2 separate regions of the Homo sapiens genome follow, and region 2 is linked to region 1. The links come from fine-mapping of genetic effects on gene expression. A gene starts in region 1. The other region holds a variant in brackets. All regions are shown on one strand. Distances are from middle to middle.

Region 1 (10,125 bases):
ATTCTGAGCACTTTTGAATGAAAGGAAATTGGAAGGACTTACAAGCTGCCTCAGAACCAAGGACTTTTTAAAGTCTTGTTTCACCACCCCACATGCATGCAGGGGCTGTCTGAAAGTTCCCTTAGCTGACTGAGAAACCAAAAGAAATTCAATTGTGTACTTGCTTTGGCAGCACATATACTAAAATTGGAATGATACAGAGATTAGCATAGCCCCTGAGCAAGAAGACATGCAAATCTGTGAAGGGATCCATTAAAAAAGAAAGAAAGAAAAAGAGCAGGTGTGGTGGCTCACGCCTGTGATCCCAGCACTTTGGGAGGCCAAGGCGGGCGGATCACCTGAGGTCGGGAGTTCGAGACCAGCCTGACCAACAGGGAAAAGCCCCATCTCTGCTAAACATACAAAATTAGCCGGGCGTGGTGGTGCATGCCTGTAATGCCAGCTACTCTGGAGGCTGAGGCAGGAGCATCACTTGAACCTGGGAGGTGGAGGTTTCGGTGAGCTGAGATCACGCCATTGCACTCCAGCCTGGACAACAAGAGTGAAACTACATCTCAAAAAAAAAAAAAAGAAAAGAAAAGAAAAAAAATAGATGCGACTGTCTTAAAATTTCCTCCCTAGGACTCTCGTCAAATAACCAGGAAATATTAACTACCAGAGAAGAGAAAAGACTAAAAGTTGTCACCACATCCAAACAGACTTTTCATCTATTCTCCTGAGGACAGCTGAGATTATTTAGGAGACTTTATCTGCATAATAAGACAACCTTTATTTACAGTGAAGTCCTGCACCTCACCTTCCTGAAATTTGTCACAACCTCCAGCTCCCAGAGCTCAGAGGAACTTTGTCCCAGGCATTGTTTGGGCTCATTCCTTTTCCCTAAAAATAGTTGACTACCTTTCAGTATTGCTGACCTCCGCTCATCTCCCTCTCCTCTGCAAAGATGGTGCTCTTTAAGCTTCAGCCACCTGGCTCTTCTCTGAGTCTCATATTCTGTATGGTAACCATGCACACTGCATGTCAGTAAATTTGTATGTGCTTTCTCCTGTTAATCTATTGCCAGTTTATTTCAGCAGACTCAAACTGTCAGAGTGGAAGGGAAAAATTCCCTTCACCCTTACAATCATCTCCTCACCTGCCCTTCCCTGTTCTCTGTGCCTGCCCCCTCCAGTCAGCTATGCCTCTTGACTGGCAAATTTCTGTGTTCTCCCTGTTATCCAGGCCCACTCAAAACAAAAAACTGCAATTCTTCCCTCATGTCTTCCTCTCTGCTTAGCAGCTAAGTCCCTCCCTTCCATTTCTATTTTTTTCTGACTGCTATTTTAGAACAAAGTGGCATAGTGCGGGAAAAAAATGAGGATTTTAGAACAAGACAGGCCTTAGTCCAAATCTTAGGTCTACTATATTTTGGCTTCCTTGGGTAAATTACTAACCTCTCTAAGGCTTAGTTTCCAAGTCTGTAAAATGGGGATATTACCCACCCTGTGGAGGCGCTATGACTTAAGTATGCATCAAGTGGTAAATAGAGGGTCCTTTTCTTATTTTCACCTCATATCAGACACCTCCTGCTCAGAAACCTTCAGAGGTTGCCCATCACTTGACTATGACACCTAAGCCATGCATTTTGCATTTTGGCCCCTCTCTCTCATCACTCTTCCCCCCAATTACTGGGGCTTGGACTAATCAAAAACATTGGTTGATGGCCAGGAGTGTTGGCTCACATCTGTAATCCCAGCACTTTGAGAGGCTGAGGCAGGTGGATCACCTGAGGTCAGGAGTTCGAGACCAGCCTGGCCAACATGGCGAAACCCTGTCTCTATTAAAAATACAAAAATTAGCTGGGTGTGGTGGCAGGCTGCTGTAATCTCAGCTACTTGAGAGGCTGAGGTGAGAGAATGCTTGAACCCAGGAGGCGGAAGTTGCAGTGAGCCAAAATCATGCCACTGCACTCCACTCCAGCCTGGGCAACAGTGCAAGTCTCAAAAAAAAAAAAAAAACCAAAAAAACAGGCATGGTGGCTCACGCCTGTAATCCCAGCACTTTGGGAGGCCAAGGTGGGCGGATCACCTGAGGTCAGGAGTTTGAGACCAGCCTGACCAACATGGAGAAACCCCATCTCTACTAGAAATACAAAATTAGCTGGGTGTGGTGGCACATGCCTGTAATCCCAGCTACTCGGGAGGCTGAGGCAGGAGAATCCCTTGAACCCGGGAGGCGGAGCTTGCGGTGAGCCAAGATCGCGCACCATTGCACTCCAGCCTGGGCAACAAGAGCAAAACTCCGTCTCAAAAAAAAAAAAAAAAAAAAAAAACAAAAGGCTGATTCCATTACTCTTTCCTCTTTCCTCCCTGCTTTCACTTTGCCGTTCAAACCAAATCCTTCTTGATTAGCTCAGCACCAAGTACTGGCTCCCTCCTCAGCCATCCCTATGTGTAGTTCAGTGGCACTTGGGGCCAACTGCTTGTCTTACAGATTAGGCAACTCTAGATTACAAAGCACTGAAAGCAGGGGCTTCATCTGGTTGGTCTTTGACCCTGCAGAGCCCCTTGCACACAGGTGATGCTCAATAAATACTTGGTGAAAGCACAATTCATTTTCTGTGTTTCAATGGGCTTCTTTTCTCTATAGAATCAGATGCTTGGTTATTCTCACCTCAGCGCTATTTTGTTGGCTTCCAGAAGGCACAGTAACGCTAGGTGTGTTGTGTTCTATCCTTTAATTGGAAGAGCTTTGGGAACTGAAAAATAAGAATTATTTCTCCAAGCCTCATCTTCTGCCACTCCCCCGTACTCACCGGCCTCATACAGGAATTGAACTACTTAGCACTGCACAGAACACGACTTTCTCTCTCACGCCTCCGTTCCTCTGTACTTAGCCTCTGTACTTACGTGCCATTCCCTTTCCCTGAAATGCCCTTACTCTGGCTTCTCTGCCTGGCAAATTCCTACTCATCCTCCAAGACTCAGATCAGACATCGCCGCATCACATCTGTGAAGGCTCTTCTGCAATGGGCAGTGTAGCAGTACCCCCTCCATTTTTTTAGCTTCCTCAGCAAACTCCAAATAATTATAACAGTACTTATGGCATTATTTGTTTATTTTTCTTCTACTTCCTAGACCGTGAATTCCTTAAGGGCCAAGATTTCTGTTCTATCCCCAGCACAGTGTTCGGCCTATATTGGAGAATCCGGTCCGTACAAACTCTGCAGTGATTCAATCAATGAGCAAACAAACTCACCAATCATTCAACACAGCAGAGTTTGTACGGACCGGATTCTCAAATATTTTAAGACCTGGTCCTCTATTTGGAGTGCTTCATTCTGGAAGATCTCTTCCTCCCCCAAGCCCCTACCCATCCAACTGCCTAGGTTTGGTAGAAGAGGAAAATAAAGTGATTAGACGGGGGAAGAGTCCTTCAGGGCTAAGCTGTCATTTACCCGCTCTGGCACCGAGAGGGTTACGGCGACCCGGGGGCGGAGCCGTGCGGAGGCCACCTGCTGCGGGGAGGTCTGGCGCATGCGCCCTGACACCTAGCTGGTTCCCTACCCGCAGGGGCCCGGCTGAGGAGGAGCGCTTGCGCTCTGGGCCTTTTCCGCCGGGGGAAGTCTCGCGGGGGCGGGGCGGGGCCTCGTGGAGAAGTTCTCGCGGGACACCGACGGGGAGCGGAAGCCAGGAGGTATTGCTGCTTCGGCGACCGGGCGGCGGCAGCGGCGGCGGCGGCTGTGGCAGAGTCTGTGCCTGTGGCGGTGACGGCGGCGGGAGCAAGCGCTGCCCTCGCAGAGCAGCCTTGGGGTCGCCGGCCGCTCGCAGCGTTGTGGAGGGGCGGGCCGGACGCTGAGCGGAGCAGCTGCGCCACGGTGAGTACGGGAGGCTGCGCTCGGCGCCTCTCTCGTGCCTTTTCCTCTTGGCTCTACAGCGGGAGTGGGCCCCGGGGGAACCGGGACCGGCCCCGGGGTTCGCGTCGGGGCGGCGAGGCTTGGGACGTGGAGCGCAATCCCCGGGGCTCCGGACTCTACGTTTCCCCTTTTGGGGCGCTTCCTTCCTGGGGACCGTCCTCCTCCGGCTCTTGGCTCTGGGCAGTCCGGGGGAAGAGGTCGGGGTTCTCTGGCGAGGTCCCCTGCCTTCATCGGGAGGGTTTGCACGGAAGGGGCCCGGGAAGCCCAGGCGGGCCGAACGCCGACCGAGTCAGTCTACCCGAGCCTGGCGGCGGGGGACTGGTGTGGGCTGCAGCTGTGGTGATTGATGTGCCTTCGACCTGCACGGCAACCACGTCACCATCTCCTGGCGTCTTTGGGCTTAATTTTGTGCGGGAATCCACTTTGGGGTGGAACGTTTGCTGCTGGAGCCGGGGGAGATACCTTTATTCTGACACTTAAAAAAAAAAACTATTTGAAAAATATTTGTCAAGAAAAATTCAGCAGTAGCAGGTTGGACTGCACCGAGGAAGGATTGCGGCGAGAGCGGGCGCTGGTAATTTTCATTTGCAGCGCGCCCTCTCTATGATTGTAAGCCACACATGAGTTATGGCTTGTTTAGAAAGTTTTTCAAGGCTGGCTTCAAACGCTGTGAAAGTGCAGTTTGCAGGGGACTGAAGTGCACTTGAGGTCTGTCTCTTTTTGATGCTGTTGACTTTCCGAAATGTCAGACACATGAGAGAAATTAGCATTAGTCTATTTTGGCTTTCTTACTCCTCTTTCTCCAGTTATTTCCTTCCTTCTCTATCTGCTTCTGTCCTTTCCACTAGGGACACGAAATGCTTGTGTAATGCAAGTCATTTGCCCCTTCCTCCCCCCACCCCCCCCTTTTTTTCTAATGTACTTCCCCTTCCTCCTTGTAGTCCCCACTCTGGCGTAATTTTTCGAGGTTTCTTCCCTTTCGTGCTGTTCGTTTTCTCTCATTTCAAGATTCCGTCTTTTTCCTCGGGAAGAGACTCTCTTTCCTTGCTTTCGTTCCTTTACTTTTGCGCGTCCCCTGCGTTCCCTGCAGTCAGCCAGAAGGGTTGCTAGAGAGCCGTGGGAGGCTGAAGTCCCCTCTCTGAGAACGGGGAGGCTCAAAAGATTGAATTCATCCCTAAGAAATCAGTCCTGCCACTAGGTCGCAAGTGTGGTTTGCTTGTATTATTTTTGTCTTTTACTCTTTTTCTTTTAAGATTATGCTTCTGTGCCTGCTTATGTTTTCTTCTAGTATGTCTTTATAATAGGAAGATTGGGTCAGCTCAGTGACTTTTTTTTTTTAGGCAGAGTTTTGCTCTTTTTGCCCAGGCTGGAGTGCAATGGTGCTATATGGGCTCACTGCAACTCTGCCTCCTGGGTTCAAGCGATTCTCCTGCCTCAGCCTCCCGAGTAGCTGGGATCACAGGCGCCCACCACCATGTCCAGCGAATTTTGTATTTTTAGTAGAGATGGGGTTTCACTGTGTTGCCCAGGTTGGTCTTGAACTCTTGACCTCAGGTAATCCACCCGCCTTGGCCTCCCAAAGTGTTGGGATTACAGGCGTGAGCCACCGCGCCCGGCCAGAGTTAATTCTTATAATCAGCTTTCTTCTACTAAACACAAGCATTTATTTATTTATTTTATTTTTTTGAGACGGAGTCTCGCTCTGTCGCCCAGGCTGGAGTGCAGTGGTGCGATCTCGGCTCACTGCAGCTTCCACCTCCTGGGTTTAAGCGATTCTCCTGCCTCGCACTCCCGAGTAGCTGGGATTACAGGTGCTCACCACCACACCTGGCTAATTTTTGTATTTTTGTAAAGACAGAGTTTCACCATGTTGGCCAGGCTGGTCTCGAATTCCTGACCTCAAGTGATCTGCCCATCTCAGCCTTGGGATTACAGACATGAGCCACTGCGCCCGGCCTGAACTCAAACGTTTAAATGTTTGAGGCACTTTACTTCGTCAGCAAGTTATTCAGATTTGAGAGGCTTGCTGGGTTTTAAATACTACTGGTTGATGGTACTTAGAGATTCTTCTCAGTAATTGCTGTTATCATGTTGCATGTTGTCCATCAGAGTTCTAATTGTTACACATACAACAGAAGAGGAATGGATTTTGGAGAAATGAAGTAATACAGAATAGAGAGTCACCATGCCCTCCGGAGAGAAATTAATACTTGCTTAATTCAGAGGAACTCTCCACCATTACTGAATGGCTTTTGAGAGTCTGTATATATATATATATTTATATATATATATATTTTTTTTGGTCAAAGTTGCCTTTTTCCTAGTTGTGCCAAGTGAATACGCATTATTTTCTTTTTCCTTTTTTTTTTTTTTTGAGACAGATTCTCGCTCTTGTTGCCCAGGCTAGAGTGCAGTGGCACGATCTCAGGTCACCACAACTTCCACCTCCTGGGTTCGGGCAATTCTTCTGCCTCAGCCTCGCTAGTAGCTGGGATCACAGGCATGCACCACCACGCCTGGCTAATTGTGTATTTTTAGTAGAGACAGGGTTTCTCCATGTTGGTCAGGCTGGTCTGGAACTCCCGACTTCAGGTGATCCACTCACCTCAGCCTCCCAAAGTGCTGGGATTACAGGCGTGAGCCACCGCGCCCGGCCAATATGCATTATTTTCATTTCATGCAAGGACATTGTAGTGCATTATCTGGAATGCAAATTTTAAAATCTGGTTAAGGCATCCTTATGGTATAGCAGTTATTTAAAATTTAGTATCCATAAAAATCACTGGGAGATCTTTTTAAAATTAGGTTCTGGTAGAACTCCAGGATGTACCCCACAGTGAATCAGTCTCTGAATGGGTGGATTTTGATACAGATGGTCTAAGGATCAAAACTGTTGTTACCAAATGCAGCCATAAATAATAAGACTGCTGTGTGGCTTTAAGTAATTCAACTTAAAATTACATTTTTCTGTGTATACACAAAGTCAGTATTTAGAATAGCCTAATGGAATGAGTGACTATAAGCATGATTCATTTTTACATGTGTAAATTTTTTAGCATTCTTAATACTGTGATGTGGAGTGATTTAACTTGAAATTTATACTTAATAGGGTCATTAATTTGCCTACCAGAGAATTCTTCTGAGTCTGTAGACTCAGACGAAAGATTTTTCAGCTTTACAGTGGTGTGAAAGCAATAGCGCTCAGTAAAAACTATACTTCCAGTACCCATATAACTGTTTTGTTTTTCACTCTCAGTACCATAGTCAGTAAATTACAGGAGATATTCATCACTTTGTTATAAAATGGGCTTTGTGTTAGATGATTTTGCTTAACTGTAGGCTAATGTGTTTGGAGCACATTTAAGGTAAGGTAGGCTAGGCTAAGCTGTGGTGTTTGGTAGGTTAGGTGTATTAAAATGCATTTCCATGTAACAATATTTTCAACTGATGATGGTTTCATCAGGATATCTGCCTATGCAGATGGAAGCTCCACATTTACTCTTAGAACATGTAGGCTAGTATTTGAAAAGAGACTGAAAATACTAGTTAAGGTCTCTGGCTTATACTACATTATAATAATAAAATCATCACAGCCCACACTATAGTGGATAATTAGTTAGCTCAGTCTTTTGGAGAGAGCCAGAGACTTCTGCCAAGCATTTTACAACCATTATCTCTTTTAATTATCAAAATGACTTTATAAGGTAGTTGGCTGTTATTATTCCCATTTTCCAGTTAAGGGATACTAGGGATTACAGAGTATAAGTTACTTCTCCAGTGTCCCCTCATTAGTAAGTGGAAAGTGACATTTGAATCCAAGTCTAACTCCAGAGCGTCAGTAAGCTTTTTGGTTTGTGTTGTAACTACAAAAGTAACACATGCCTATTGTAAAAATAATGAAAATACAATTGAGGTGTATCATGCAGAAAGTAAAAGTGTTCTGTGATCTCGCTAGCAGAGATAACCATTGTTAGCCTTTTTTTTTTTTTTTTTTTTTTGAGACGGAGTCTCGCTCTGTCGCCCAGGCCGGACTGCGGACTGCAGTGGCGCAATCTCGGCTCACTGCAAGCTCCGCTTCCCGGGTTCACGCCATTCTCCTGCCTCAGCCTCCCGAGTAGCTGGGACTACAGGCGCCCGCCACCGCGCCCGGCTAATTTTTTGTATTTTTAGTAGAGACGGGGTTTCACCTTGTTAGCCAGGATGGTCTCGATCTCCTGACCTCGTGATCCACCCGCCTCGGCCTCCCAAAGTGCTGGGATTACAGGCGTGAGCCACTGCGCCCGGCCTAGCCTTTTTTTTTAAGCACATACTGATGTATTATTTTGCCTTACAGAAATAGGATAAACTATAATTTTTCTGCAGCTTTAAAAATTTGAGGAGAATGGCTTGAACCCGGGAGGTGGAGGTTGCTTTGAGCAGAGATCATACCACTGCACTCTAGCCTGGGCGACAGAGCAAGACTCCGTCTCAAAAAAAAAAAAAAATTGATATATCCTGGTATTTATGTAGATACTCCATACACAAGCTCATGGATATTGATCAAGGGTGTGGGTGTATATGTGTATGTTGCACATTGTATTTTGTCTCATTGTTTCAGTGAGATAAATCTGGGAAGTGGAATTGCTTGGTCAAGAGTATGTATTGGTCAGGCACAGTAGCTCACGCCTGTCACCCTGGAACTTTGGGAGGCCGAGGTGGGCGGATCACTTGAGGTTGGAGACCAGCCTGGCCAACATGGTGAAACCTCGTCTTTATTTGAAAATACAAACATTAAAAACACACACAAACACACAAAAAAAGAAAATTCAAAAATTAGGTGGTGGTGACACGCCTGGAATCCCAGCTACTTGGGAGGCTGAGGCAAGGAGAATCGCTTGAACGCAGGAGGTGGAGGTTACAGTGAGATGAGATCACACCACTGCATTCCAGCCTGGGCAACAGAGCGAGACTCTGTCTCAGAAAGAAAAAAGGAGCATGAGGCTGGGTATGGTGGTATGCATGTAATCCCAGCACTTTGGGAGGCCAAGGCTGGTGGATTGCCTGAAGTCAGGAGTTTGAGACCAGCCTGGCCAACCTAGTGAAAGCCCATCTCTACTAACAGTACAAAAATTAGCCAGGCATGGTGGTGCACGCCTATAGTCCCAGTTACTTGGGAGGCTGAGGCAGGGGAATTGCTGGAACTCAGGAGGCGGAGATTGCAGTGAGCTGAGATCGTGCCATTGCACTTCAGCCTGGGTGACAGAGCAAGACTCCATCTCAAAAAAAGGAGTATGTATTTACAAAAATTAGCCAGGTGTGGTGGCACACACCTGTAGTCCCAGCTACTTGGGAAGCTGAGGCGGGAGGATGGCCTGAGCCTGGGAGGTCAAGGCTGCAGTGAGCCAAGATGGCACCCACTGCACTCCAGACTGGGTGACAGAGCAAGACCCTGTCTCAAAAAAAAAAAGAGTATGTATTAATATTTCAAAATTGTCGGTCAGGGCCGGGCACGGTGGCTCATGCCTGTAATCCCAGCACTTTGGGAGGCTGAGGCAGGCGGATCACGAGGTCAGGAGATCGAGACCATCCTGGCTAACATGGTGAAACCATGTCTCTACTAAAAATACAAAAAAATAAGCCGGGTGTGGTGGTGGGCACCTATAGTCCCAGCCACTCGGGAGGCTGAGGCAGGAGAATGGCATGAACCTGGGAGACGGAGCTTGCAGCGAGCCAAGATTGCGTCACTACACCAGCCTGGGCGACAGAGCGAGACTCTGTCTCAAAAAAATAAATAAATAATTGTTGGTCGGGCGCGGTGGCTCACGGCCTGTAATCCCAGCACTTTGGGAGGCCAAGGCGGGTGGATCACGAGGTCAGGAGTTCAAGACCAGCCTGACCAACATGGTGAAACCCTGCCTCTACTAAAAATACAAAAGTTAGTCAGTCGTGGTGGTGGGGGCATGTAATCCCAGCTACTTGGGAGGCTGAGGCAGGAGAATGGCTTGAATCCAGGAGACAGAGGTTGTGGTGAGCCAAGATCGTGCCACTGCATTCCAGCCTGGGTGACAAAGCGAGACTCCATCTCAAAAAAAAAAAAAAAAAAGAAAAGATTGTCAAGGCCAGGTGTGGTGGCTCACCCCTGTAATCCCAGCACTTGGAAAGGCTGAGATGGGGAGGATCACGTGAGTCCAGGAGTTTGAGATCAGCTTGGGCAACATGGTGAGTCCTGGTCACCACACACACACACACAC
Region 2 (17,100 bases), 92 kb after region 1:
GTTTCCCCCTGGAACCCATCTGGCCTCGGAGGTGGCCAGTCACAGACCAGGAATGCAATGTGGGTTTTTCCTGCTCCTGTTTTGCAGCAGCCGACATACGTCCAGGCCCTCTTTGACTTTGATCCCCAGGAGGATGGAGAGCTGGGCTTCCGCCGGGGAGATTTTATCCATGTCATGGATAACTCAGACCCCAACTGGTGGAAAGGAGCTTGCCACGGGCAGACCGGCATGTTTCCCCGCAATTATGTCACCCCCGTGAACCGGAACGTCTAAGAGTCAAGAAGCAATTATTTAAAGAAAGTGAAAAATGTAAAACACATACAAAAGAATTAAACCCACAAGCTGCCTCTGACAGCAGCCTGTGAGGGAGTGCAGAACACCTGGCCGGGTCACCCTGTGACCCTCTCACTTTGGTTGGAACTTTAGGGGGTGGGAGGGGGCGTTGGATTTAAAAATGCCAAAACTTACCTATAAATTAAGAAGAGTTTTTATTACAAATTTTCACTGCTGCTCCTCTTTCCCCTCCTTTGTCTTTTTTTTCATCCTTTTTTCTCTTCTGTCCATCAGTGCATGACGTTTAAGGCCACGTATAGTCCTAGCTGACGCCAATAATAAAAAACAAGAAACCAAGTGGGCTGGTATTCTCTCTATGCAAAATGTCTGTTTTAGTTGGAATGACTGAAAGAAGAACAGCTGTTCCTGTGTTCTTCGTATATACACACAAAAAGGAGCGGGCAGGGCCGCTCGATGCCTTTGCTGTTTAGCTTCCTCCAGAGGAGGGGACTTGTAGGAATCTGCCTTCCAGCCCAGACCCCCAGTGTATTTTGTCCAAGTTCACAGTAGAGTAGGGTAGAAGGAAAGCATGTCTCTGCTTCCATGGCTTCCTGAGAAAGCCCACCTGGGCTGGGCGCGGTGGCTCACGCCTGTAATCCCAGCACTTTGGGAGGCCAAGGTGGGCGGATCACAAGGTCAGGAGTTCGAGACCAACCTAGCCAACATGGTGAAACCCCGTCTCTACTAAAAATAAGAAATTAGCCGGGTGTGGCACGCACCTGTAGTCCCAGCTACTTGGGAGCCTGAGGCAGGAGAATCGCTTGAACCTGGGAAGTGGAGGTTGAGTGAGCCGGGACCGTGCCATTGTACTCCAGCCTGGGTGACAGAGCGAGATTCCGTCTCAAAAAAAAAAAAAAAAAGCCCACCTGAAAGCCTGTCTCTTTCCACTTTGTTGGCCCTTCCAGTGGGATTATCGAGCATGTTGTTTTTTCATAGTGCCTTTTTCCTTATTTCAAGGGTTGCTTCTGAGTGGTGTTTTTTTTTTTTTTTTAATTTGTTTTGTTTTAAAATAAGTTAAAGGCAGTCCAGAGCTTTTCAGCCAATTTGTCTCCTACTCTGTGTAAATATTTTTCCCTCCGGGCAGGGGAGCCAGGGTAGAGCAAAGGAGACAAAGCAGGAGTGGAAGGTGAGGCGTTCTCCTGCTTGTACTAAGCCAGGAGGCTTTAAGCTCCAGCTTTAAGGGTTGTGAGCCCCTTGGGGGTTCAGGGAACTGCTTGCCCAGGGTGCAGTGTGAGTGTGATGGGCCACCGGGGCAAGAGGGAAGGTGACCGCCCAGCTCTCCCACATCCCACTGGATCTGGCTTACAGGGGGGTCGGAAGCCTGTCCTCACCGTCTCGGGGGTTGTGGCCCCCGCCCCCTCCCTATATGCACCCCTGGAACCAGCAAGTCCCAGACAAGGAGAGCGGAGGAGGAAGTCATGGGAACGCAGCCTCCAGTTGTAGCAGGTTTCACTATTCCTATGCTGGGGTACACAGTGAGAGTACTCACTTTTCACTTGTCTTGCTCTTAGATTGGGCCATGGCTTTCATCCTGTGTCCCCTGACCTGTCCAGGTGAGTGTGAGGGCAGCACTGGGAAGCTGGAGTGCTGCTTGTGCCTCCCTTCCCAGTGGGCTGTGTTGACTGCTGCTCCCCACCCCTACCGATGGTCCCAGGAAGCAGGGAGAGTTGGGGAAGGCAAGATTGGAAAGACAGGAAGACCAAGGCCTCGGCAGAACTCTCTGTCTTCTCTCCACTTCTGGTCCCCTGTGGTGATGTGCCTGTAATCTTTTTCTCCACCCAAACCCCTTCCCACGACAAAAACAAGACTGCCTCCCTCTCTTCCGGGAGCTGGTGACAGCCTTGGGCCTTTCAGTCCCAAAGCGGCCGATGGGAGTCTCCCTCCGACTCCAGATATGAACAGGGCCCAGGCCTGGAGCGTTTGCTGTGCCAGGAGGCGGCAGCTCTTCTGGGCAGAGCCTGTCCCCGCCTTCCCTCACTCTTCCTCATCCTGCTTCTCTTTTCCTCGCAGATGATAAAAGGAATCTGGCATTCTACACCTGGACCATTTGATTGTTTTATTTTGGAATTGGTGTATATCATGAAGCCTTGCTGAACTAAGTTTTGTGTGTATATATTTAAAAAAAAAATCAGTGTTTAAATAAAGACCTATGTACTTAATCCTTTAACTCTGCGGATAGCATTTGGTAGGTAGTGATTAACTGTGAATAATAAATACACAATGAATTCTTCACTTGGTATCTTTTTTTCCCCTTGCCTGCCTTAAAAATTTAAAAACCGCATCGGGGAGTCAGGAATCTTGGGTCCTTATTTCAGACGTGATCACCCAGCTTACATCCCCCTAGGGGAGCATGTGGGGCTCACAGGCCTTCCTGGGAGCGATGCCTGCAGTTGGCTGTCAGGAACTCCTGGGGAGCCTGTTAACAATACAGAATCGCAAACCCCGCCCCACATCCTCGGACATTGCCTTTGAGGACACAGACACGCCCGCTGTTTCTGATGTAGAGAAACCACTGACCACGCTTTGGGAACTCTGGTCTAGACCAAGGGCTTTGGGAAGATAAAGAGCTTGGCTTATTTGGTTCTCCTGTTTTCTGTGTTAAACAAGAAGAAGGACAGAAACACCTGTGAAGAAACGGTTTTAATATGCTGAGTAACTGAAATATACTTGTTTGCTCAATAGGCTGCTTTTAGGGTGAGACTAGGCATATTTACACACACGTTGGCTACAGAGGCAAAGAAGACTGAACAAAAAAGAAATGAGGTCTGGCCATGGTAGCTCATGCCTGTAATCCCAGCACTTTGAGAGGCCAAGGTGGGGGATCACTTGAGCCCAGGAGTTTTGAGGCCAGTCTGGGCAGCATAGGGAGACTCCCTGCCTCTCTACAAAAAGCAAATTAGCCAGATGCAGTGGCGCACGCCTGTAGTGAGGATTACTTGGGAGGCTGAGGTGGATCACTTGAGCCCAGGAGGTCAAGACTACAGTGAGCTGTGGTTGCACCACTGCACTCCAGCCTGGGCAACAGGGTGAGACCTTGTCTCGAAAAAGTAATAAAAAGGGGACAGGCAGGGTGGCTCACACCTGTAATCCCAGCACTTTGGGAGACTGAAGCGGGTGAATCACAAGGTCAGGAGTTCAAGACCAGCCTGGCCAACATGGTGAAACCCCATCTCTACTAAAAATACAAAAATTAGCCAGCTGTGGTGGCAGGTGTCTGTAGTCCCAGCTACTCGGGAGGCTGAGGCAGGAGAATCGCTTGAACCCGGGAGGTGGAGGTTACAGTGAGCCGAGATTGCACCACTGCACTCCAGCCTGGGTGACAGAGCTAGGTTCCCTCTCAAAAAAATAAAATAAAATAAAAAATAAAGGTAATAAGGGCCAGGCTCAGTGGCTTACGCCTGTAATCCTAACACTTTGAGAGGCTGAGGCGGGTGGATTGCTTGAGCTCAAGAATGCCACACCAGCCTGGGCAACATAGTGAAACCCATCTCTACCAAAAATTAGCTGAGTGTGGTGATGCACACCTGTGGTCCCAGCTACTCAGGAGGCTGAAGTGGAGGTTGCAGTGAGCTGTCATGCCACTATACTCCAGCCTGAGAGACAGACCTCTCTCAAAAAAAAAAAAAAAATACCCAAGAAATCTCGACTTGAATTCTTCTTGGTGTAGCCACACTGAGCAGGGGAGGCTTGTGGGTTGTTTTGTTTTGTGACAGGGTCTTTATCTGCCACCCAGGCTGGAGTGCTACGGTGCAATCATAGCTCACTGCAGACTCAATCCCCTGGGCTCAAGTGATCACCTCAGCCTCCCAAGTAGCTGGGACTGTAGGCATACACTACTGCACCCAAGTAGCTGGGACTACAGGCATACGCTACTGCACCCAAGTAGCTGGGACTACAGGCATACGCTACTGCACCTGGCTAATTTCATTTTTTTTTGTACAGTGGGGTCTGTGTTTCCCAGGCTGGTCTCAGACTCCTGGGCTCAAGAGATCCCCCCACCCTTGGCCTTTCAAAGTGCTGGAAATCCAGGCGTGAGCTGTGCCTGGCCTGGGACGTTTTTGACCTTCCCCTGCAGCAGTCATGTGTGGGAAGGATCTTGACCCAGCAAGAGTCAAGACTGCTAGTCCTGTGGTCCACTTGGGCTGGCCTCCTTGAAGCTGAGCAGAAGTTTACAAAATGGAGCTATGTAATTGAAAAGGCCGGGCGTGGTGACTCATTTAGCCTCATTTGAGGCTTTTTGCTCAATTTGTCCCCTCCCTCGCGTTTGACTGACTGTTTCAGAATTAATGGGAAAATCACTCCTTTTCTGTGATCAGCAGTTTGGTCACAGATTTCTTAGTGATGGTATCTCCCTCCTCAGGGATCCGGGATTCCTGGGAAGACATCTGGGCGGGGTGCCTTGGGAAGCCTCCCAGCATCTTACAGGAGCCCTGTGGCCGGCGTGCAGCCGGGAGTCGCTCAGTGTGTCAGGGGAAAAGCTGGAGGTAGGCGCATGGCCTCGCTCTTCAGGGCACGCCCCCCCCACCCCTCCCTGACACGCTTCCCTCCACCCAGTGAGCTGGGAGCCCCTGACAGGCTCACCTTCAGACTTGAGTGTGGAGGAGATGGTGACCCACAGCGCGGGGCTGCTTAGGTGGCCTCTGAGCCAAAGGCCATGATGGCGCAGGCTGCCTGCCTTCCCTGGGCACTAGTTCCACCTGACTGTTCATGGGGTGGGTGACCTTCAGCCCAAAACGTTCGCTTTATGGAAGTTCCTGGATAACTGGAAAAAATGACAGTGGACCTGTTTTATGCGTCTTGGAAATACTTTTTTTTTCTTTTTTTTTTTTTTGAGACAGAGTCTCCGTCTGTCCCCTAGGCTGGAATGCAGTGGCACGATCTTGGCTCACTGCAACCTCCACCTCCCGGGTTCAAGTGATTCTCCTGCCTCACCCTCCTAAGTAGCTGGGATAACCAGCTCCTGCCACCACGCCCAGCTAATTTTTGTACCTGGGGTCAGGAGTTCAAGACCAGCCTGGCCAACGTGGTGAAACCCTGTCTCTACTAAAAATACAAAAATTAGGTGGGCGTGGTGGCGGGCACCTGTAATCACAGCTACTCGGCAGGCTGAGTCAGGAGAATCGCTTGAACCCGGGAGGCAGAGGTTGCAGTGAGCCGAGATCGCGCCATCACACTCCAGCCTGGGCGACAGAGTGAGACTCCGTCTCAAAAAAAAAAGAGTACAATTCTGTGTGCCAACAGCACTGATAGATCAATATTACATGTTAGTGATATTGATTAAGCCACTTACTGCTTAGTGCATTCCAAACACTACTTTTAAAACTAACACTAAAAGCCATACTATACCCCGTCCAAAAAAGAAATCACTAAGACGTATTTTAAGTCTCAACTCTGGCCCACCCAAGAGCAACACTGGTCTTAGGTCTCCAAGGACAGCCTTCTTTTTTTCTTTTTTCTTTTTTTTTTTTCAGTTGGAGTCTGGCTCTGTTGCTGGAGTACAGTGGCGCCATCTCAGCTCATTGCAACCTCCGCTTCCTGGGTGCAAGCGATTCTGCTGCCTCAGCTTCCCGAATAGCTCGGACTACAGGCGCCCGCCACCACACCCAGCTAATTTTTGTATTTTTAGTAGAGATGGGGTTTCACCATGTTGGCCACGATGGTCTTGATCTCCTGACCTCGTGATCTGCCCACCTTGGCCTCTAAAGTGCTGGGATTACAGGCGTGAGCCACCAGGCCCTGCCCCAGCCTTTTTTTTTTTTAACATTCCTGGATTCGGGTTGAGAAAGCACAGCTATTGCAGCCATTCTCTGAGTGTGAGTCGTGGCGTCAGCAGTGTTGGCCTCCAAAATAGCAGCTGCCAGGTCCTGAGGGCTCGCCTCGTGCTGCAGGCCTGTGCAAGGGCCCGAGCCTGGGGTGAAAGGGTGGATGTTTGCCTCCTGCTGTAACCCCACCCCTCATCCTGCGCTGTGCTAGGGAAGCAAGGGGCGAGGGTGTACCCTTTTTCATTTACTCTGTTACACATGTGTTGCCCACACCTGTAGGGATTGATGGTGAACGTCATTCCTGGGGCGTGTGGAATTGGAGGCAATTATCTCCCCTCTAACTGGAGGCTGAGGAGGGCCCCCGTGTCTTCTCACACCATCAACCACCGCTTTCCATTCCTGCACGGTGGCATTGCTGCCCTGAGTCACCCTGAAACTGGAAACTGCCCCACTGGAGCCTTCTGTCCTTGACACAGACGCACTCTTCAGTCCTGATCCTTGTATTATGCAAGCCCTTGCATGAGAGAGACTCAAAGAGGAAATGTAGACAGCACAGGCTCAAAGGGAGGCTTGGAGGCAGATGGGACTTGCCCTGGGGATTGGGTGAAATGAGTTTGGACAGTTACTAATAGGACAGTAGACACCCAGAGCAGGTGGTCTAGTAGAGGCGTGGCGGTGTTAGCGAGCACCTGCCTGGACATGGCTTGAGGGAGCCTGAGTAGCCTCCTGCAACGAGGAAGAAAGAGCCCAGGTGGGGTTTGTGGGGGACTCGAATGCAGGCTGAGCGATGCCCATTCTGCCTGTTGACACAGGAGGCTTCTGTAGCTTTTTTTTTTTTTTTTTTTTTTAAACAGAGTCTCACTCACCCAGGCTGGAGTGCCGTGGCACGATCTCAGCTCACTGCAACCTCTGCCTCTTGGGCTCAAGCAATTCTCCTTCCTCAGCCTCTCCAGTAGCTGGGATTACAGGTGTGCACCACCATGCCCAGCTAATTTTTGTATTTTTAGTAGAGATGGGGTTTTGCCATGTTGGCCAGGCTGATCTCAAACTCCCGACCTCAGGTGATCCACCCGCCCCAGCCTCCCAAAGTGCTGGGATTACAGGTGTGAGCCACCATGCCTGGCTGCTTCTGTAGCTCTTATAGATCAGCGGTACGATGAAAGATAAGTTTTAGGAACATCTGACTTGCAGTGGTGCGGAGACCAGAATCCGGATAGCCTGGAAGAGGCTAGGGTCGTGTTAGCTGAGTGAAGTCAGGCTCTGCAGCAGAGTGTGCGCAGTGCTCACCTGGCTCTCTCCCGACCAGTTGTCTGGACCATGTGCCCAACCTCCCTGCAGTTCCAAGCAGCCATGTGCTCCAGTCCTGACGTGTGTGGTGTGTTTGGGGCCTTGTGGCCTCCCCACTTTGTTGCTTCTCTTGCCTGTGGGTGGATGCAGGAGAGCCAGCAGAAGACCCAGAGCACCTGCTAGATTTGGAACATGTCTGGGGCGGGGCACAGTGGCTCATGCCTGTAATCCCAGCACTTTGGGAGGATCACTTTAGCCCAAGAGATTGAGAACAGTCTGGCAATATAGTGAGACCCTGTCTCTACAAAAAATTAGACAGACTCAGTGGTGTGCTCCTGTAGTCCCAGCTACTCAAAGAGGCTGAGGCAGGAGGATTGCCTGAGTCTGGAAGGTCGAGGCTACAGTGAGCCATGATTCTGCCACTGCACTCCAGCCTGGGCAGCAGAGACCGAGACCTCGTCTCAAAAAAATGAAACAAATATCAGCTGTGTTGCATCACTGACGGGGGGAGGAGGGTTGTCTGTTACAGCAGCCACACTGCCTATCCAGGGACAATGCTGGGGATAGGACCTGGGGAGAAACTTGAGAGGCCCAGCAAAAAATAGGAGGTTTTGGCCGGGCACGGTGGCTCACGCCTGTAATCCCAGCACTTTGGGAGGCCGAGGCGGACAGATCACCTGAGGTTGGGAGTTTGAAACTAGCCTGACCAACATGGAGAAACCCCATCTCTACTAAAAATACAAAATTAGCTGGGCATGGTGGTGCATGCCTGTAATCCCAGCTACTCAGGAGGCTGAGGCAGGAGAATCACTTGAACTCAGGAGGTGGAGGTTGCGGTGAGCCAAGATCATGCCATTGCACTCCAGCCTGGGCAACAAGAGTGAAGCTCTGTCTCAAAAAAAAAAAAAAGAAAAGAAAAAAATATGAGGTTTTGGAAAAGGAAGTAGAATTGCTTGTCATCTAAAATAGAAGGAAGCAGCAGTGACAGCTTTCGTAAGACCAGCATCTGCGCCATCTCCTTACAGATGGGGCTGGCTCTTCGGCACGAACCCCACTCTCCAGACCTAGCTGCATAGGACAAGCCAATTTCTCTCTGAATGTCTTTTTTTTTTTTTTTTTTTTTTTTTTTTTGAGACGAAGTCTTGCTTTGTCTCAGGCTGGAGTGCAGTGGCATGATCATAGCTCACTGCTTGCTTGAAGTCCTGTGCTCAAGTGATCCTCCCGCCTCAACCTCCCGAGTAGCTGGACGTGCGCACCACCATGCCCAGCTAATTAAAAAAAATTTCACAGAGATGGGGTCTCACTATATTGCCCAGACTAGTCTTGAACTCCTGCACTCAAGGGATCCTCCCGCCTCAGCCTCCCAAAGTGTTGGGATTAAAGGCATAAGCCACCACACTTGGCCTTTTTTTTTTTTTTTTTTTTTTTTCTGAGACAGAGTCTTACTCTGGAGTGCAGTGGCACGATCTCTGCTCACTCCAACCTCCGCCTCCTGGGTTCAAGTGATTCTCCTGCCTCAGCCTCTTGAGTAGATGGGACTATAGGCACCCGCCACCTTGCCTAATTTTTTTTTTTTTTTTTTTGAGATGGAGTCTCACTCTGTCGCCCAAGCTGGAGTGCAGTGGCACAATCTCGGCTCACTGTAACCTCTGCCTGCCGGGTTCAAGGAATTCTTCAGCCTCAGCCTCCCGAGTAGCTGGGACAACAGGCATGCCACCATGCCCAGCTAATTTTTTTGTAGTTTTAGTACAGATGGGGTTTCACCATGCTGGCCAGGCTGGTCTTGAACTCTTGACCTCGTGATCCACCTGCCTTGGCCTCTCAAAGGGCTGGGATTACAAGAGTGAGCCACCGTGCCTGGCCCGTGGCCTAATTTTTGTATTTTTAGTAGAGACGGGGTTTCACCAATTTGGCCAGGCTGGTCTCGAACTCCTGACCTCAAGTGATCTGCCTGCCTCGGCCTCCCAAAATGCTGGGATTACAGGCATGAGCTACTGTGCTCAGCCTTTTTTTTTTTTTTTTTTTTTTTTTTGAGACGGAGTTTTGCTCTTGTTGCCCAGGCTGGAGTGCAATGGTGCAATCTCGGCTCACCACAACCTCCAGCTCCTGGGTTCAAGCGATTCTTCTGCCTCAGCCTCCCGAGTAACTGGGATTATAGGCATGAGCCATCACACTTGGCTAATTTTGTATTTTTAGTAGAGACGGGGGTTTCTCCATGTTGATCAGGCTGGTCTCGAACTCCCAGCCTCAGGTGATCCACTCTCCTCGGCCTCCTAAAGTGCTGGGATTACAGGCATGAGCCACCGCACCCAGCCAATTTTTTTTTTTTTTTTTAAGAGACAAGAGTCTTGCTCCATGGCCCAGCCTGGAGTGCAGTGGTGTGATCATAGCTCACTGCAGCCTCAAACTCCTGGGCTCAAGCCATCCTCCCACCTCAATCTCCCAAGGAACTGGGACTACAGGTGGTACCACCACACCTAGCGAATTTT[A/T]AAATTTTTTGAAGATTTTAGGCCGAGCATGGTGACTCATGCCTGTAATCCCAGCACTTTTGGAGGCCGAGGGGGCCAGATCACCTGAGGTCAGGAGTTCACAACCAGCCTGGCCAACCTGGTGAAACCCAGTCTCTACTAAAAATACAAAAATTAGCCGGGCATGGTGGCCCACGCCTGTAATTCCAGCTGCACAGGAGGCTAAAGCAGGAGAATCACTTGAACCTGGGAGGCAGAGGTTGCAGCAAGCCGAGATGGCGTCACTGCACTCCAGCCTGGGCGACAGAGCGAGACTCTGTCTCAAAAAAAAAAAAAAAAAAAAGTTTTATGGAGATATGATCAATGTAACATTTTTAAGTGACCCATCTAAAGTATATTATTCAATGTTTTTTAGTATTCACAGTTATGCAATCATCACCACAATCCATTTTATTTTATGTTTTTTAGTAGAGACAGGGTCTCACTATGTTGCTCAGGCTGGTCTCAAACTCCTGTCCTCAAGCGACCCTCCCACCTTGGCCTCCCAAAGTGCTGGGATTACAGACATGATCCACTGTGCCAGCCACCACAATCCATTTTAGAACACTGTCATACCCCAAAAGAAACCATATACCCCAGCCTGGGCAACATGGCAAAACCTTGCCCCTACAAGAAATAACAAAAATTAGCCAGCTGTGTAATCCCAGCACTTTGGGAGGCCGAGGTGGGTGGATCACCAGAGGTCAGGAGTTTGAGACTAGCCGGGCCAATATGGTGAAACCTTGTCTCTACTAAAAATACAAAAATTAGCCAGGCGTGGTTGCGTGTGCCTGTAGTCCCAGCTACTCAGGAGGCTGAGGCAGGAGAATCACTTGAACCCGGGAGGCGGAGGTTGCAGTGAGCCAAGATCACACCATTGCACTCCAGCCTGGGCAACAGAGTGAGACTCCGTCTAAAAAAAATAAAGAAACTGCTGATGTTGTCCCAGTGAAGGGAGTGGCAGAGGGCCAAGGGCGTTGAGCTGTATTTAGGAGGAGCTGGGAAGACCTGGGGTGGAGGGAAAGGCAGGTCCAGATGGCTGCAGGGCAGTGGGGGGATCTGTGGCTTTTGTTTGTTGAGATGGGGAACTAGGGGAAGAGGGGCAGGGTGGGGTGAAGCAGAGAGAAAGGCTGGAGGGTTGGATTTGAGGTGCCTGAGGACAATCATCTAGAAAGCAGCAGGGTGTGTTCACCTGGAGCTCAGGAGACAGATCTGACAGGAGATCGAGATCCAGGTGTTGTCAGTGTGGAGGTGGCCCTGAAACCATGGCCACGGGTGAGGCCTCACATACTCCAGTCCCCATAAGGAAGCACAGCCCTGAGGGCTGGGCGAGGGGAAGGCAGGAAGCACACAGGAGAGAGGCCAGAGCGGCAGGAGGTGAGCCAAGAGTCCACAGCACCAGGGACGCCACAGGGCTCCAGGGACAGGGCTGCAGGGAAATGCTCCCTGGTACCATCCTGGTCCCGGCCCTTCGTCCCCCTCTCCCCACTGCCACAAAACCTCCTCCTGTCTCTCCACCCTGCCTCTTTCCCCAGCCTGTCCAAAGAGGGCAAAGTCCAGGCTCCTGCCCCTCAGGAGCAGTGTGATGTAGGACAAAGAGCATGAGATCGCAGGCCTGAGGCCAGGGCCTTTATTCCTCGCTGTGTGACCAGGGCCCCCTTTTTCTCCTTTTTTCTTCCTTTTTTTTTTTTTTTTTTTTTTTGAAACAGAGCAAGACTCTATCGCCCAAGCTGGAGTGCAGTGATGCAATCCCAGCTCACTGCAACCTCCGCCTCCCGGGTTCAAGCGATTCTCCCACCTCAGCTTCCCGAGTTAGGATTACAGGCACGTTCCACCATGTCTGGCTGGTTGTTTGTATTTTTAATAGAAACGGGGTTTCGCTGTGTTGCCCAGGCTGATCTTGAACTCTTGGCCTCAAGTGATCCACCCACCTCAGCCTCCCAAATTGCTGGGATTACTGGCGTGAGCCATGGCGCCTGGCCACGACCAGGGCCCTTAACCTCTCACCCCCATTCCTTCATCTGTTTAAAAATCAAACCAAGGAAAATGTCCCTAGGTTGCTCTGAGGATCCAACGTGATTATGTACACGGGTGTTTTGCAACTGCAACGATTAAGTACATCGTGACAGGTGCTGATTAGGATCTTGGCATTCAAGATCTCATACAGTCTGCACCTGGTCCAATTCTCCAAGCCTTTGGCCAACCAAATCCCTTCTGAGTCTTTGCCTTTGGTCAGCATCTACCTTTCTCCCAGATCACAGGCAAAACCTCAGCTCACTGCAACCTCCACCTCCTGGGCTCAACCAATCCTACCACGTCAGCCTCCCAAGTAGCTGGGACCACAGACACACACCACCATGTCCGGCTAAATTTTTGTATTTTTAGTAGTGATAGGGTTTCACCATGTTGCCCAGGCTGGTCTCCAACTCCTGAGCTCAATCGATCCCCCTGCACTGGCCCTCCAAAGTGCTGGGATTACAGGCGTGAGCCGCTGTGCCTGGCCTGTTTAAATCTTTGATCCATTTAAAGGTATCCTGATATCGGTGTGAGAGATGGATTCAGCTCTCCTTTTTTCCAGATGGCTATACGCTTGTCCAGATAGTATTTACTCACAGGCCACCTCTGCCCCAGCCGCTGTCCTCTCCTCTCTAACTAACCTTCAGCTCCTCCTCTCTGCTCTCTGCTTATCCCCAGCCTGTCATAAGAACTAGATCTACAGACCCCACATCTCCTGAGAACCCCTTCCTGATCAGCTCCCAGGGGGCTCTTGCTCCCCTGCAGTCTCGAAATCCCAACTGCCTGCCCCCTTCCTCCATCCTCCCTTCCTCCATCCTCCCTTCCTCCATCCTCCTGCGGGCACAGTGGCTCAATTCTGTAATCCCAGCACTTTGGGAGGCCTAGGTGGGTGGATCACTTGAGGTCAGTTTAAGACCAGCCTATTCAACATGGTAAAACCCCGTCTCTACTAAAAACACAAAAATTGGCCGGGCGCAGTGGTTCACACCTGTAATCCCAGCACTTTGGGAGGCCGAGGCAGGCGGATCACTTGAGGTCAGGAGTTCGAGACCAGCCTGGCCAACATGGTGAAACCACGTCTCTACTAAAAATACAAAAATTAGCCAGGCATGGTGGCAGGTGCCTGTAATCCCAGCTACTTGGGAGGCTGAGGCAGGAGAATTGCTTGAAGCTGGGAGGCGGAGGTTGCAGTGAGCCAAGATTGCACCATTGCACTCCAGTCTGGGTGACAGAGAGAGACTGCCTGTCAAAAAAAGCCACAAAAATTAGCCGGGTGTGGTGGAACATGCAGTAATAATCCCAGCTATTTGGGAGGCTGAGGCAAGAATCACTTGAACCCAGAAGGCAGAGGTTGCGGTGAGCTGAGTTTGCGCCACTGCACTCCAGCCTGGGCGACAGAGCAAGACTCCATCTCAAAAAAAAAAAAAAAAAAAAATTTAGGCTGAGTGTGGGTTATAAGATTACACAGGATAAGGTGTATTAAGTAACTAGCACAAGATGGGTTAATCTATGCTAGTGCCCACATCTGGTAAATCATTTTGAGTTCAGCCAGCTTCTGGTCAGCCCTGTGCCTATCCATGATTCTTATTCTGTTCTTACCGAGTGCAAAATAATTCATAGATTTTTGTTTTTTGGTTTTACAGTTTTTTTTTTTTTTGAGACAGGCTGTCACTCTGTCATCCAGGCTGCAGTGCAGTGACACAACTACAGCTCTTGTAACCTCAACTTCCCAGGCTCAAGCCATCCTCCCACCTCAGCCTCCCAAGTAGCTGACTCCAGGAACACACCACCACACCCAGCTAATTTTTATATTTTTTGTAGAGATGAGGTCTCACTATGTTACCCAGGCTGGTCTCAAACTCCTAGGCTCCAAGTGATCTCTCACCTCAGCCTCCCAAAGTGTTGGGATTACAACCACACCCATCTGTATTTTCTTTTCTTTCTTTTTTTTTTTAAGACGGATCTCGCTCTGTTGCTCAGGCTGGAGGGGCAATGGCACGATCTCAGCTCACTGCAACCTCCACCTCCTGGGTTCAAGTGATTCTCCTGCCTCAGCCTCCCGAGTAGCTGGGACTACAGACATGCACCACCACGCCTGGCTGATTTTTGTATTTTTTAGTAGAGACAGGGTTTCATCATGTTGCCCAGGCTGGTCTTGAACTCCTGACCTCCAGTGATCCACCCACCTAGGCCTCCCAAGTGCTAGGATTATAGGTGTGAGCCACTGCGCCTGGCCTGTTTAAATCTTTGATCCGTTTAAAGGTATCCTGATATCAGTGTGAGAGATGGATTCAGCTCTCCTTTTTTCCAGATGACTACACGCTTGTCCAGATAGTATTTACTCACAGGTCCATCGGCAGCCCCCTGCGAGCAGGTGCGTTCTGTATAATGAGTGTCCATGTCCTCTGTATACTGGGGTCCTGTTTCTGGGCCTCTGTTACTCTGCAGTCTGCCCGTGGGCTAGTGCGGCACACTAAGTTTCTGATGTCAGATCGGCCATTCTTTTCCCATTGCTCTTCTCAGTATGTCCTGGCTCTTCTTGTTTATCTTTTATTTTCTTTCTTTTTTTTTTGGAGACGGAATCTCGCTTTGTTGCCCAGGCTAGGGTGCAATGGCGTGATCTCGGCTCACTGCAACCTCTGACTTCCTAGTTCAAGAAATTCTCCTGCCTCAGCCTCCCGAGTAGCTGGGATTACAGGCACCCGCTACCACACCTGGCTAATTTTTGTATTTTTGTAGAGACGGGGTTCACCAGCCGGCATGGTGGCTCACACCTGTAATCTCAACATTTTGGGAGGCCAAGGCGGGCAGATCACTTGAGGTCAGGAGTTCGAGCCTGGCCAACATGGTGAAACTCTGTCTCTACTAAAAATCCAAAAATTAGCCAGGTGTGATGGCACACGCCTATAGTCCCAGCTACTCAGGAGGCTGAGGCAGGAGAATCGCTTGAACCCAGGAAGCAGAGATTGCAGTGAGCTGAGATTACGCCATGGCACTCCAGCCTGGGCAACAAAGCACGCCTCTGTCTCAAAAAAAAAAAAAAAAACGGCCAGGCGCGGTGGCTTATGCCTGTAATCCCAGCACTTTGGGAGGCTGAGGCGGGCGGATCACCAAGTCAGGAGATCGAGACCATCCTGGCTAACACAGTGAAACCCCATCTCTACTAAAAATACAAAAAATTAGCTGGGCGTGGTAGTGGGCGCCTATTGTCCTAGCTACTTGGGAGGCTGAGGCAGGAGAATGGCGTGAACCCAGGAGGCAGAGGCTGAAGTGAGCCGAGATCGCACCACTGCACTCCAGCCTGAGCAACAGAGCGAGACGCCGTCTCAAAAAAAAAAAAAAAGAGAGAGAGGAGATGAAGTTTCACCATGTTGGCCAAGCTGGTCTTGAACTCCTGACGACGTCATGATCCGCCTGCCTCAGCCTCCCAAAGTACTGGGATTACAGGCATGAGCCACCACGCCCGGCCTTGTTTATATTTTCAATGTAAACTTTAGCATCAGCTTGTTTCCTTCCAGAAAAAAGGCTCTTGGTGTTTTTATTTGGATCATGTTAAATTTGTAAACTAAGAAGAACTGGCGTTTTGTGATGTTGAGTCTCCCTATCCGAGGACTTGCCATGTCTTTCCAGTTTCATGTCCTTTGGGAACATTTTCCTTATGGAGATTTTGCATGTTTCTTGTGACATTTGTTCCCAGATATTTTATCATCTTTGTTGATATTTTAAAGCAGACCTTATCTTCTTCCATCTTTTTTTTTTTTTTTGAGATAAGGTCTTGCTCTGTCACCCAGGCTGGAGTGCAGTGGTGTGATCATGGCTCACTGAAACCTCCACCTCCTGGGCTCAAGTGATCCTTCCACCTCAGCCTTCCATGTAGCTAGGACTACAGACATGTGCCACTGCACCCAGCTAATTTATTTATTTTTGTTTTTAAATTTATATCTATCTATTTATTTATTTATTGAGTCATGGTCTCATTTTGTTACCCAGGCTAGAGTACAGTGGTGTGAACACAGCTCATCCCAGCCTCGACCCTCTGGGTTCAAGCAATCCTCCTACCTCAGCCTCCTGAGTAGCTGGGACTATAGGCAAGTACCACCATGCCCACCTAATTTTTGTACTTTTTGTAGAGATGGGGTTTCGCCATGTTGCCCAGGCTGGTCTTGAATTCCTGAGCTCAAGTGATCTGCCCACCTCAGCCTCCCAAAGTGCTGGGATTACAGGCAGGAGCCACTATGCCCGGCCTCCCATTTTCTAGCTAGCTGTCATTTGTCTATGGGAAGGTATTGATTTCTCTGTACAAATGTTGATCTCACTTCCCTACTGAATTACTTGTCTGTGTGCAGTGGTTTGGCATTTGATCTCATACAGACAAAATTGTGTCTTTTTTTTTTCTTTTTTTAGAGACAGGGTCTTGCTATGTTGGCCAGGTTCATCTTGAACTCTTGGCCTCAAGCAATTCTCCTGCCTCAGCCTCCCAAAGTGCTAGGACTACAGGTGAAAGCCCCCACACCTGGCCTCAAGAAATCATGTCTAAATGGCACATTTAAACCGATGGCCAGGTGAGCTCCAAGGCTCTTCCACTGCCTGCTCTGCTTGTCCTGAGACCACTAGTGAAGACGAAAGTTCATTAAAGGAGCAAATAGGCCAGGCGCAGTGGCTCACACCAGTAATCCCAGCACTTTGGGAGGCTGAGGCAGGTGTATCACTTAAGATCTGGAGTTCAAGACCAGCCTGGCCAACATGTAGAAACTTCATCCCCACTAGAAATACAAAAAATTAGCTGGGTGTGGTGGCAGGCACCTGTAGTCCCAGCTACTCAGGAGGCTGAGACTGGAGAATTGCTTGAACCCAGGAGGCGGAGGTTGCAGTGAGCCGAGATCGCACCACTGCACTCCAGCCTGGGTGACACCGTGAGACTCCGTCTCAAAAAAACAAATAAAAACTATTTTGTTGTGAGTAAGGAATATAAGTTGTTTTTCAAATGCCTTCTGACCATAAGGCTGCTCTTCCAAACACTTTTGCAGCCTGAGAAAAGTAATCCATGGGAAGAAGACCTCTCCCCCTCAGCTGTAGAACTCAAAGTGCAGATGGGTGAGGAGCATGATCTCAAAACACAGGGCAGCCAGGCCAGCACCGTGGGAGGCCGAGGCGGGGAGATGACTTGAGGTCATGAGTTTGAGACTAGCCTGGCC

The links. PIP is the estimated chance that this variant, and not a neighbour inherited with it, causes the effect.
Region 2: its variant is fine-mapped to the expression of GRB2 in whole blood (TOPMed, PIP above 0.99).

What each region holds. Positions count from the first base shown.
Region 1 is chr17:75,399,220-75,409,344 of GRCh38, reverse strand. GRB2 (growth factor receptor bound protein 2) reads left to right here and starts at 3,667. Exons shown (of 6, transcript NM_002086.5): 1 at 3,667-3,856. It overlaps MIR3678 (microRNA 3678), which reads right to left and starts at 3,276; the gene lies at 3,183-3,276. It also overlaps the pseudogene RNU6-938P. RefSeq lists a silencer at 3,430-3,609.
Region 2 is chr17:75,303,541-75,320,640 of GRCh38, reverse strand. It overlaps GRB2 (growth factor receptor bound protein 2), which reads left to right. Exons shown (of 6, transcript NM_002086.5): 6 at 88-2,565. The coding sequence ends at 273. Among named protein-coding and RNA genes, the nearest start is that of SLC25A19, 23 kb to the right of the region's middle. RefSeq lists enhancers at 1-838, 749-888, 3,897-4,146, 4,497-4,646. The variant A/T (reference allele first, on the strand shown) is at 9,872.